Linked DNA regions of Homo sapiens. The protein of the gene in region 3 purifies or fractionates together with the protein of the main gene of each other region. This does not show direct contact. Each region holds a gene or a part of one and is shown on either strand. Other genes may lie near its edges. The genes, in order: UBA3, SRM and NT5DC1.

Region 1 (3,649 bases), on a different chromosome or scaffold from region 3:
TTACCAGAGGGATATATAGATGACTAGAACAGAATAGGGAAGCCAGAAATAGCCCCATATAAGTATGGCCAATTTGTTTTTGATAAAGGTGCAAAACAGTTCCAATGGAAGAAGCATAGTCTTCAACAAATCGTACTGGAGCAATTTCATATCCATAGTTAAAAGATGAATTTTGACCTAAACATACAAAATTAACTCAAAATGGATTATAGGTGTAAATATAAAATATAAAATGAGCCAGGCGTGGTGGCTCATGCCTGTAATCCCAGCACTTTGGGAGGCCGAGGTGGGTGGATCACTTGAGGTCAGGAGTTCGAGACCAGCCTGGCCAACATGGTGAAACCCCGTCTCTACTAAGAATACAAAAATTAGCCGGGCACAGTGGCTCCCAGCTACTCAGGAGGCTGAGGTGGGAGAATCGCTTGACCCTAGGAGGCTGAGGTTGCAGTGAGCTGAAATTGCGCTACTGCACCCCAGCCTGGGCGACAGAGCAAGGCTCCATCTCAAAAAAACAAAAAAAAACACAAAAAACCATAAAACGATAGAACTTTAGGGTTTGGTGGAGAGTGCTTAGGCCACGTCAAAAGCAAGACCTGTAAAAGGTGGGGTATGGTGGTGCAGATCACTGAGGAAGCAGTGAGCTTTTATCATACCACTACAGAGTCCTGGCTGCTTGGGAGGCTAAGGTGGGAGGATTGCTTGAGACTAGGAGTTTGAAGCTATAGTAGGCTGTGGTCATACTGTGAATAGCCACTGCATTCCAGCCTGGGCAATGTAGTGAGACATCATCTCTAAAAAATTAAAATAATTTTTTGTAAAAGCATGAGCCATAAAAGGAAAAAATTGATACACTGAACTTCATCAAAATTAAAAACTTGCTGTGTGAAAGACCCTCTTAAACGGATGAAGAAAAGCCACAGACTGGAGAAAATACTTGTAAAGCATCTGATGGAGGACTCATATCTAGAGTATATAATGAACTCTAAAAACTCAACAGTAAAACAAAAAAAAATTCAATTAGAAAATAGACAAAAGATAGGAAGAGATATTTTACTAAAAAGGATGACGAAAAGCACATGAAAAGATGTTTCACATCAAACTAAGACCACCATGAGCGATACTGTTACACAACTATTAGACTAAAAAAAAAAAGCCAGTCTCAAAAGGTCATATACTGCATGATTCTGTTTATATAATACTCTTGAAATTACAGAATTATAGAGATGGCTGGGTGTGGTGGTTCAGGCCTGTAATTCCAGCACTTTGGGAGGCTGAGGCGGGAAGATCACTTGAGCCTGGTTGTTTGAGAACAGCCTAGGCAACAAATGAGACCCTATTTCTGTAAAAACTAGAAAAATTACCCGGGCATGGTGGCACATGCCTGTAGTCCCAGCTATGTGGGAGGCTGAGGCAGGAAGATCAGTTAAGCCCAGGATGTGGAGGCTGCAGAGAGATCTTTATTGTGGTCGAATAGTTATGTGTGTTGCCTGGGGTGGTGGTTACACAAATCTATGTGTGTTTAAATGACAGAATTATAAACACACATTGTACCAATGTTCTGTTCATGGTTTTGGTACTGTACTATAGTAAGATGTAACTGGGAAAGGTGCATGGTACCTACCTATACTATCTGTGCAACTTACTGCGAATCTATATTATTTCAAAATAAAGAGCTTAAAAATGCAAATACAGGCCCCTGTAGGGAAAAAGGAAGAGTTGGTGGGGGTGGGTTGGTTAGTGGGGGGCACTCAGTTTGTCTATCCCCATTATGTGGGTCTGGGAAACTTTGGGTATTTTCTAGAAATCCAGATTAGATTTCTTAGTCTGGCTCTTGGTTCCCTGATTGCCATTCCTCCACTGTTTGCTTTGTTTCTTTTTTGACCTCTTTCTAGCTGTAGCTTCGTTCTCCTGCTTGCCTAGCATTCAAAGGGAATAGAGGTCTGAATGACTGAGGGCTAGAATTGAAATTATTGTTCATAGCTTTATTTGTAGGCAAGAATTAAAAATCTAGAGGAAGCATGTATTGTCCCTTTTTTCTATGTATTGTCCCTTTTTTCTCTGTATTGCTTTTAAAAAATTTATAGTGGACTATTTATCTTAACTTTAGAGAAGTTGCATAATTTATAAATTATTAAACAATTGCTCCATTCATTAGAAAAATTAAAACAAGTTTTTGCACACATGTGCTATTAAAACATTAAGTGCTATATTGACTCACCCACAATCAGTTTTGAATGGAGTTTCCTTTTTAGCCTCCAGGGATGGGAAGACTGGTAATAGGATTTGGTAGGGTAACTTGAAAACTGAGTTAAATGAGAAAGGTAGAAAAAATTCGTACTTTTTCTCCTCCCCACAAAAAATAAAAACAGTAAAATCTTTACCAACTGAAAAAGCTGTTGAAATTTTCTGTATGTTAAAAAAATGAGCTTTGCAGTAACTCTTAAAATCACCTAGCAAAATAGGAACTATAATGTGCATCTTTCCTTCACTAAAACATTTATTGCATCTCTTCTTGATGCTGATGATTGAGGACACACATTCTGCTTTCCTGGGGCTTATGGTTTTATATAAAAACCAAAGCAAAGTAGAAAGTATACCTCCTACCAAGGGCATAAATATAATGATATAGGGGTTCAGGAATGAGAAAAAGTAAGTAGTTAGGGGAGGAATGGCAGAAAAGTTTTGTCAGAAAGGAGAGTTGTGTTCATTTAGTCAGATTCCTTGAATTCCACTGATGTGAACATTGATTACTTATTTCTTGTTGTAAATATATGCAGAGTGTGTTCCTTATGGCATTGTCAAATTCATTTTAGAAATTAAAACTTAGCTGCTTAAGTTCCTTTACTTGTATTCAGACATTTCAACAAGATTCAAGATTTTAACGACACTTTCTATCGACGTAAGTTTTTTACTTGAAATTAATGCTCACTAGATTCTTAGAATTTTTTAGTTGGTAGCTATTCAAATATTGCTAGCTATTTCAAGGCTATTTCTTCACTTGCTTTCCTCTCTCACTGTTGGCTTTTCAGTAATGTTGCTGATAGACTGAAAAGAGAATGCTAGTTTTAGCTGACATGACCAGCTACAAGTTTCTATGCTTACCTGAATGAGAGTTCACTCAAGGAATTGGAGCTCTGAGAACGTATGTGGGATTACAGTAAAAAGTGCTTGTGGTTTTTTTGTTGGTTTCTTAGAACGTGCAAATTGTTTTCTGCAAGTGCTTTTTTTTTTTAATTAGTAAACTTTATTTTTTAGGGCAGTTTTATGTTCACAACAAAATTGAACAGAAAATTTTTGAAAACTTGGGTTCTCATAGAGCTTCCTGTTCCCACAAACACACTACCTTCCTAATCAACATCTTGCACCAGAGTGGTACATTTGTTGCAGTTGATGAATCTACATTGAAAGATCATCATGCAACTACATATTTAAAAACTAAAGTTGCTTTTTTTTTTTTTTGTAGAATTTCATATTATTGTATGTGGACTGGACTCTATCATCGCCAGAAGATGGATAAATGGCATGCTGGTAAAGACTTTAGTATTGTTATAGTTCTCTGAAGTTCTTGCTGCTGTGCTTCACATCCCCAAAATTAGAATTGATATATTTTTGAAAAATCAGAGTTTAATTTTTAATTAAGTATATTTAC
Region 2 (3,079 bases), on a different chromosome or scaffold from region 3:
AACATAGGGAGACTCTATCTCTACCAAAAATTTAAAAAGTAGCCAAGTATGATTGAACACACTTGTCCCAGCTACTCAGGAGGCTGATGGGGGAGGATCACCTGAGCCCCGGAGGCCGAGGGTGTAGTGAGCCATGATCGATGCCACTGCACTCCAGCCTGGGCCACAAAGTGAGACCCTGTCTCAAAAAAAAATAATAAAAAAAAGGGAAGGGGTTGGCCAAGGCGGCTTGCCTGTGAGGCACTTGGAGAGTCCCACGTGGCTGTGCTGGCTCCAGGTCCCCCAGCCCCTTGGCCCAGACTGGTCCCTCCCATCCCCTCCAGGATGTCATCCAAGTCTCCAAGAAGTTCCTGCCAGGCATGGCCATTGGCTACTCTAGCTCGAAGCTGACCCTACATGTGGGTGACGGTTTTGAGTTCATGAAACAGAATCAGGATGCCTTCGACGTGATCATCACTGACTCCTCAGACCCCATGGGTAAGCAGTGGATGGGCCCCAGGGTTTTCTGGCAGCTGCAGGTCTGGAGGTCAGCCTCCCCCAGGCCTTCAGAGTAAAGGATAGAGCGGCCTCCCACCCCCCGAACTAGAGCTGTACTTTTCCCTTCTCATTTGTTACCTGCCCTCTGAAACATGGCTCAGGACAGTAGGCAGGAGCCAGGCGACTGCCCAGATTCACAAGCTGGTGACCAAGGAGAGTGGGGATCTGGCATTGGGACACTGAGGACCCTGTGTCCTCTTCAGCCTCCCCTCTGCTCTGAAGTGGTCAGCACTGGAGTGGGGGCAGGTTCTAGTCTTGAACGAAGGCCTAGGTTAGAGGTTCCTCTGCTGTGGTGCCAATGAGACTCCCCCAAGAATGGGATTCAGGTGTGGATCCCCCACAGACCTGGGTTCAGATCCTGGCTCTGGCCACCTGGTAGCTGTGTGGGTGACAGTGGCCCTGGAGGTCACAGCCAGACTGTTCAGTGTGTCTCCCTCTGTCTTCCCCAGGCCCCGCCGAAAGTCTCTTCAAGGAGTCCTATTACCAGCTCATGAAGACAGCCCTCAAGGAAGATGGTGTCCTCTGCTGCCAGGGTGAGCCACAGGCCTGGAGCACTGGGGCGGGGCGGGGTGGGGCAGGGCAGGCCCTGCCGGATGCTGATGCTTAGGGGCCCCCAGGCGAGTGCCAGTGGCTGCACCTGGACCTCATCAAGGAGATGCGGCAGTTCTGCCAGTCCCTGTTCCCCGTGGTGGCCTATGCCTACTGCACCATCCCCACCTACCCCAGCGGCCAGATCGGCTTCATGCTGTGCAGCAAGAACCCGGTGAGATGGGGGTGTCTGGGGGTGGGGGTTGGGGGGAAGGTGGGCATAAATAGAGATCCCTGCCCCTGCCGGGCGCGGTGGCTCACACCTGTAATCCCAGCACTTTGGGAGGCTGAGGCGGGCAGATCACAAGGTCAGGAGATCGAGACCATCTTGGCTAACACGGTGAAACCCCGTCTCTACTAAAAATACAAAAAAATTAGCCAGGCATGGCAGCGCGCGCCTGTAGTCCCAGCTGCTGGGGAGGCTGAGGCAGGAGAATGGCGTGAACCCGGGAGGCGGAGCTTGCAGTGAGCCGAGATTGCGCCACTACATTCCAGCCTGGGTAACAGAGGAAGATTCCGACTCAAAAAAAAAAAAAAACCCTCCCCAGGCCAGGTGCGGTGTCTCATGCCTGTAATTCCAGCATTTTGGGAGACCAAGGTGGGCGGATCACTTGAGGTCAGGAGTACAAGACCAGCCTGACCAACATGGAGAAACCCCATCACTACTCAAAATACAAAAAAAAAAAAAATTAGCCGGGCGTGGTGGCGCGTACCTGAGGCTGAGGCAGGAGAATCACTTGAACCTGGGAGACAGAGGTTGCAGTGAGCTGAGATGACGCCACTGCACTCCAGCGTGGCAACAGTGAGACTCCGTCTCAAAAAAAAAAAAAAAAAAGTGCCCCCCCTGATGTGCCCCTGGCCCGGTCCCCAGAGCACGAACTTCCAGGAGCCGGTGCAGCCGCTGACACAGCAGCAGGTGGCGCAGATGCAGCTGAAGTACTACAACTCCGACGTGCACCGCGCCGCCTTTGTGCTGCCCGAGTTTGCCCGCAAGGTGGGTGGCCTGCGGGGCTGGGTGGTGGGACCCAGGGACCCAGAGCGCCCTCCTGACTGGCCTCATGTCCCTCCAGGCCCTGAATGATGTGAGCTGAGCCCAGGCGCCACCACTGATGCCACCCAGGACCTCGGACCTTGGAGCCTGCGGGGTGCCTCGGCCCCTCCAGCCCCGGGCCGGACCTCCTGCTGGCTCTCGCCCACCAACCAAGTGTTACAAGCCCCAGAATGCTGCCCGGCCTGCCCTGCTGGGCGGACTGTCTGTGTGTCTGTCTCTCTGGCGTTCCACCTCCAAGCCTATACCAGCTGTGTACAGCGCCATCTCTCTGCCTTCTGTTGCCCCTCACTCACCAAACACGTGTATTTATAGCAAAGATTGGAGTCCTGTGTCTCCTGACCTTGGCTGGGCCCAGGCAGGGCCACATTCACCATTGGGTGCCTCTGGGGTGAGGGTCTGCAGAGGCCTTGCTGGCTGACCCCCAAGTGTCTGCTGCAGGGCTGAGGCTGCAGGCGGGCCATCGTGGATAGCCTGGGGCACAGAGGGTCACCGCAGTCGTCACGTGGGACCCAGAGCTGTCCTGGGAAGCTGACTTAGCTGTCCTTTTACCAAGCCCTTCACAAGGCCACTGGTGACAGCCCCCCAGGGCAGTGGGGTGGGTGAGATCAGGGTGGGGCTGCCCGGGAGCATTCTCAGAAAAATTGGGGACACTCACAGGTGTAAGTCAGGTCCCATCCAGGTACTCCAGGGCAAATACAGGAAGGGGTGGCGGGGCTGGTTACCTTCGGCCTTTTTAAGCACATCAGGAGCTTAACACTGGCCCAGTGACTGTGCCCTGACTCCACCCGGCATTCAGACTTGGGTTCAAATTCCCACCATGCCCCGCCCCCTATGTGGACAAATTGAGAAAGCAAGTGTGGGCACCCCACCAGGGACTGCGAGGACCAGGGCTGTCCCCTCTCC
Region 3 (4,402 bases):
GTACCTAAAGCACCTACTCCCACATGAAACAAGATATTCCCCAAGGAAACATGTGCCCTTCAATGTGGCATGCACCTGGAAGTTTGACTTTGGTAGCATTCTATTGCAAGGTGCAGAGGAGAATGCCAAGGTCAATGCTCCAGGGCCAACAAGCTTTTTCCAGCCTCTCCAACAATCCAGCCTTTTCTCTTTTGGTTCACAGACATTGAAAACATGATTGTTGGACTCATCAGTGAACAGCTTAATCTTCTTGAAGATTCTTTACTTTTCCTATTCCAGAGAGATTTGTTTGGGGCTTTTAAGTGTTATAATGGAACAAGTTATCAATTTTATTCAAATGGGTCTACTAGGTATAAGTGTCCTCCTACTCAATTGTACTATCTATTGCACTAAATTAATCCTCTGATTGGTCTATTAGCCTCAGAAGGATTAGTATTTGAAAGGGTTAAATGCAGTTCTCAATCAATTATATTTTCATTATGTCACGACTATTGATTTGTCCCATTAGACACATTGTTCCTTTAAATTGAGAACTGAAGCAGTGTAAACATAATAGATTTGTATTTTCTTTTTAAAATGAGGTACTATGTAATAAAGATCTCAAAGTGCTAGTCCTTCACATCCGGAAATCAGGAAGAGAATTAAATGCCCTAAGGCATACATTGTATGTAATGGATTAACTTTCTCTGCATCTAAAATGGTAGTAGTTATACAGTTCTTGAGAGAATTAAGCAAATGTCACTCAAAACATTTTGTGCTCTATAAACCTTAAACCCGGTTTGCAAAAGTTTTTTGTAGTATGCTCTATATATTTCTATGAAGTTTCTGATGCCCTTTCATAAAAAATTCATTACAATAACAAAATAGGATTATCAAGTAATAACCAATATTGGTTTCCATAACAAGTATCATCTTGCAAAATGGTTCTTCACGATGTCTGATACATTTATTTTCTAACGCACTCCAGGGTATGAAATAGTGAAAGGTCTGTCTTCCACTTAACCACTTAGGAAACCAAGGAATATAAAGTTTTTGGTTTAAACCACTATCAAAGATCACGTGGGTGAAAAGACCTTCCAAATTGTAGGCTAACTGGGTCAGAGGGATATTAGCGGATGAATTTTTTCTATGATCTTACTATTCCTCACACAGGGGTAAAAGGTCAGGTCTAACCTCATGATCTCCTGGTTTCCGAGGCGCCCTGAGGCGATGGAGTGTCCCGGTTAATTTTGTGGTAGCCCTCGGGAAAGGCTACGTGCCTACAGGTCTCAGCTGTGCAGCAGCGGCACCGCTCCTGGACCCCTACTGCCTTCTGGGCTCCTAGGCTTGCGGAACAGATCAGGAGTCGCCGGCATTGGGGTACCAGGAGGACGCGAGCTGACTACCTGACTCCGGGCGGCGCAGGACGCCCGCCGCGCGAGGGGCGGGGGCTAAGCGTATCGAGGGGCGGTGCTCGAGGGCGCGGGAGGCGGGAGAGGCTGCCGCGCCGTGTGCCCTGGCAGCCGCAGCCCCGCCCCGCCGCGTCCGGCCCGGTCCTGTCCCGCAGCGTCCCGCCAGCCAGCTCCTTGCACCCTTCGCGGCCGAGGCGCTCCCTGGTGCTCCCCGCGCAGCCATGGCTCAGCACTTCTCCCTGGCCGCCTGCGACGTGGTCGGATTCGACCTGGACCACACTCTGTGTCGCTACAACCTGCCCGAGAGCGCCCCGGTGAGTGGCGCGGGCTCCGGGGCGCACTGCGCGCAACCTCCATGGCGGCTGGGGCTTGAGTTTCCTCCAGGTTTGGGCAACGGCGGACGCTGCCCGGGGCCTGCGGCGGCCGAGTCTTGCCGCAGAGCGCGGCCTCCAGCGGCGAGAAGGGGCGGAAGTGTGCAGCCTCCGCTCCGCGCCGGTGCCGTGGGGACCGGCACATTTACCTCAGCCATTAGCTAATGTTGAGAGGGATAGGGAAGAACGAAGGAGGGGCAAACTGCGCAAGACCGGGCTGGGGAATCGGTGATTTCTAGGGCCGAGGAGGGGCGGGGTCAGGGGGACTAGGGCTGTCCTTGAAGATCTCACGTCGTGGAACTTTCTCTGCATGTCTTTCTGGACACCAGCTGATTGTGGACACAGCCACTTGATTTGGTACTTGCATTTTTTTTGGCTGCATTTTTCTGTTTGCACGATCAACCACCCATCAGTGTTTAAACTGCAATCTGGGAGAGATGCGTAGTATATAGTGTAGTGTATTGAAAGGAACACTAGTTGAAAAGTCATTAAGATCTTAGCCCTAGTTTTACCTTCTATCAAGAGAAGAAAATACATATTTATTGCGCATCGACTACGTGCTCCGTGCACTTTGAATACATTCCAGTCCTACCAACAGTCTGCGAAGTTTGGGTCCTCACTGTGCCCTGAGGGAGGGGGACATGGAGTATGCATGCTTCCAGACCTGTACACTCAAATTAATTGCCCTCCCTCCACTATTCCTTTGGTTTCCCAATTCCCAAGGAAACTAATTTTGAAAAGTTACCAGATTTTTTTAGTCCAAGATCTAAGCATCCAGACAGAAAAAGAGCTGGTTATGAGTACAGTGGTGAAAGCGAGGACTCCTCAGCCAGACTGCCTAGCTTAGGACACCAGCTCCACTGTTACTAGCTCTGTGACTTCGAGGAAGTTACTTAACCTGTGCTGCTTCTCAGTTTCCCCATCTGTAAAATGGAGCTAATAATTGGATTTACCTCACAAGATTGTTGCAAGGATTAAATGAGTAAGAGATGTATAATGCTTAGAATAGTACCTTGGCAAAGACAAGTGTTTGCTTTTATGGTTACCACCCAAACTATTTGGAAACCTCACAGTTTATGGGTAGAACTCTAGATCACTGGTGCAGACATCAGCCAGGGTTGTGCCCCATTATGGGCACCCGCCAGTTCCTGCACCCACCAGTTCAGGTACACGTTAAAGGTCAAAAAAGAGTGGCTGCCCGAATTTCTCGTGTGTTTTCTATGCCCAGATGCTAAATTTTTTTTTAAATGTCCTTTTTCTGCTGTTACACTTTCCTGCTTTCTTACCTTACAGGTCTGGTTTCCTTAGTCACATTGAGAATTAAGAAGGCTTTTTTACTGCTTGATTCTTTGGCCACTGCTTCCCCTAGGTCTTTGATACATGTTTTCCTTCCCTCTGTGTCTTTCGAATCCTTCCTGGTTCACAGTTTTGTGTGTCTCCTCTTTAGTTACCTTCATTTGGAGGTAATATTGTTAAACCACTGTCATGTTAGAGCTAGTGTTGTCCATAGGTGATCATAAAATTTCAGAATATAAGATTCTCAAAGACAAGAGGTTTTTTTACTGCAAACCTGGAGAATAAGTGATGTTTAAAGCTTGAAAACAGTAACCTATTGAGTTTTGGATCATGTTTGGTGTGGAAATCTTTTTTATTTTAAGTCCCACAGTGTGCTGAGCACCATGCTAGAGCTGAGGATACAGAGATCAACACGCAGGCCTCCAGGCAGCCTTACACAGTAGGCAAAAATGCTGAAGAGTTAGTCTTGGTCCCTTGTGGTGGGTAGTATGACCTGGGTCTTGCTTCACGCTGCCAACAGTGCCTGGAGGGCCTCTTTGCTCTGCACAGAAGCTCTTCATCCCATCAGGCCTCATCTTAAACATCGTTCCCCTTAGGAAGTCTTTTTGGCCCTTAAAGTTTGCCCTTCCATTCTAAGCCCACCTTCAGTTTTCCACAAAACCCTTCATTCCTCATAGCACATGCTGCATGATATTAACACTTCCTGTTTACTTGTTGGACTTCCCCTAGAGCCCAGCGTGATGACTCCATCAGTATCTGTGACAGTTTCTTGTGTGTTCTGTGTGCCGAGCTTAGTGCTGGGCACATACTGGACTCAATAAATAGACTGAATAGATAATAGGTATTTTAATAACAGAATATGATACAGCCATGATTCTAATAAGCATGCTGCTTATATGAATGGATTTAATCCTTACAACGTCCCTGTGAGGTAGATATTATCACCACTGTTTAATCACTTAACAGTGATTTAGTCACTGTTAAGAGAGCATCAAGCAACGGGGCACAGAAGGAAAGTGTATCCAGGGCAACTAAGCGAGGTAGTCCGGCTGTGGATTTCTGCTTCTTCCCACCTTGCTGTCTGTATGGTGCCCGAAAACACAGAGGAAAGGCCGGGAGCTGGCAGGTGAGGAGGTGGAGAGGAGTGCTTCACCCAGAGGAGTTAGAGTAAAGGTCAGAACCTCGAGGTGAGCAACAGCACCGGGAACTGCTGGGTGCAAGCAAAAGGTGGCAAGTTGCAGGAGAAGATGGTGGAGAAGTCAGTGGGGGCTGCATCATGGAGAGCTGTGAGTGCGTCTCCTTTCAGTTTTGTAGGCATTTAACAACTGCACAGAGTTGTGCAAA

The links.
Region 1: the proteins of NT5DC1 (region 3) and UBA3 fractionate together in Homo sapiens (co-fractionation; one large-scale study listed by BioGRID). This does not show direct contact.
Region 2: the proteins of NT5DC1 (region 3) and SRM fractionate together in Homo sapiens (co-fractionation; one large-scale study listed by BioGRID). This does not show direct contact.

The regions. Positions count from the first base shown.
Region 1 is NC_000003.12:69,063,318-69,066,966, reverse strand, and holds part of UBA3 (NEDD8-activating enzyme E1 catalytic subunit), read left to right. Parts: intron 1-2,855; coding exon 2,856-2,899; intron 2,900-3,463; coding exon 3,464-3,528; intron 3,529-3,649. UniProt on the Homo sapiens protein: Catalytic subunit of the dimeric UBA3-NAE1 E1 enzyme. E1 activates NEDD8 by first adenylating its C-terminal glycine residue with ATP, thereafter linking this residue to the side chain of the catalytic cysteine, yielding a NEDD8-UBA3 thioester and free AMP.
Region 2 is NC_000001.11:11,054,002-11,057,080, reverse strand, and holds the end of SRM (spermidine synthase), read left to right. Parts: intron 1-323; coding exon 324-477; intron 478-986; coding exon 987-1,070; intron 1,071-1,154; coding exon 1,155-1,300; intron 1,301-1,996; coding exon 1,997-2,119; intron 2,120-2,195; coding exon 2,196-2,216; 3' UTR 2,217-2,492; downstream 2,493-3,079. UniProt on the Homo sapiens protein: Catalyzes the production of spermidine from putrescine and decarboxylated S-adenosylmethionine (dcSAM). Has a strong preference for putrescine as substrate, and has very low activity towards 1,3-diaminopropane. Has extremely low activity towards spermidine.
Region 3 is NC_000006.12:116,099,319-116,103,720, forward strand, and holds the start of NT5DC1 (5'-nucleotidase domain-containing protein 1), read left to right. Parts: upstream 1-1,534; 5' UTR 1,535-1,612; coding exon 1,613-1,705; intron 1,706-4,402.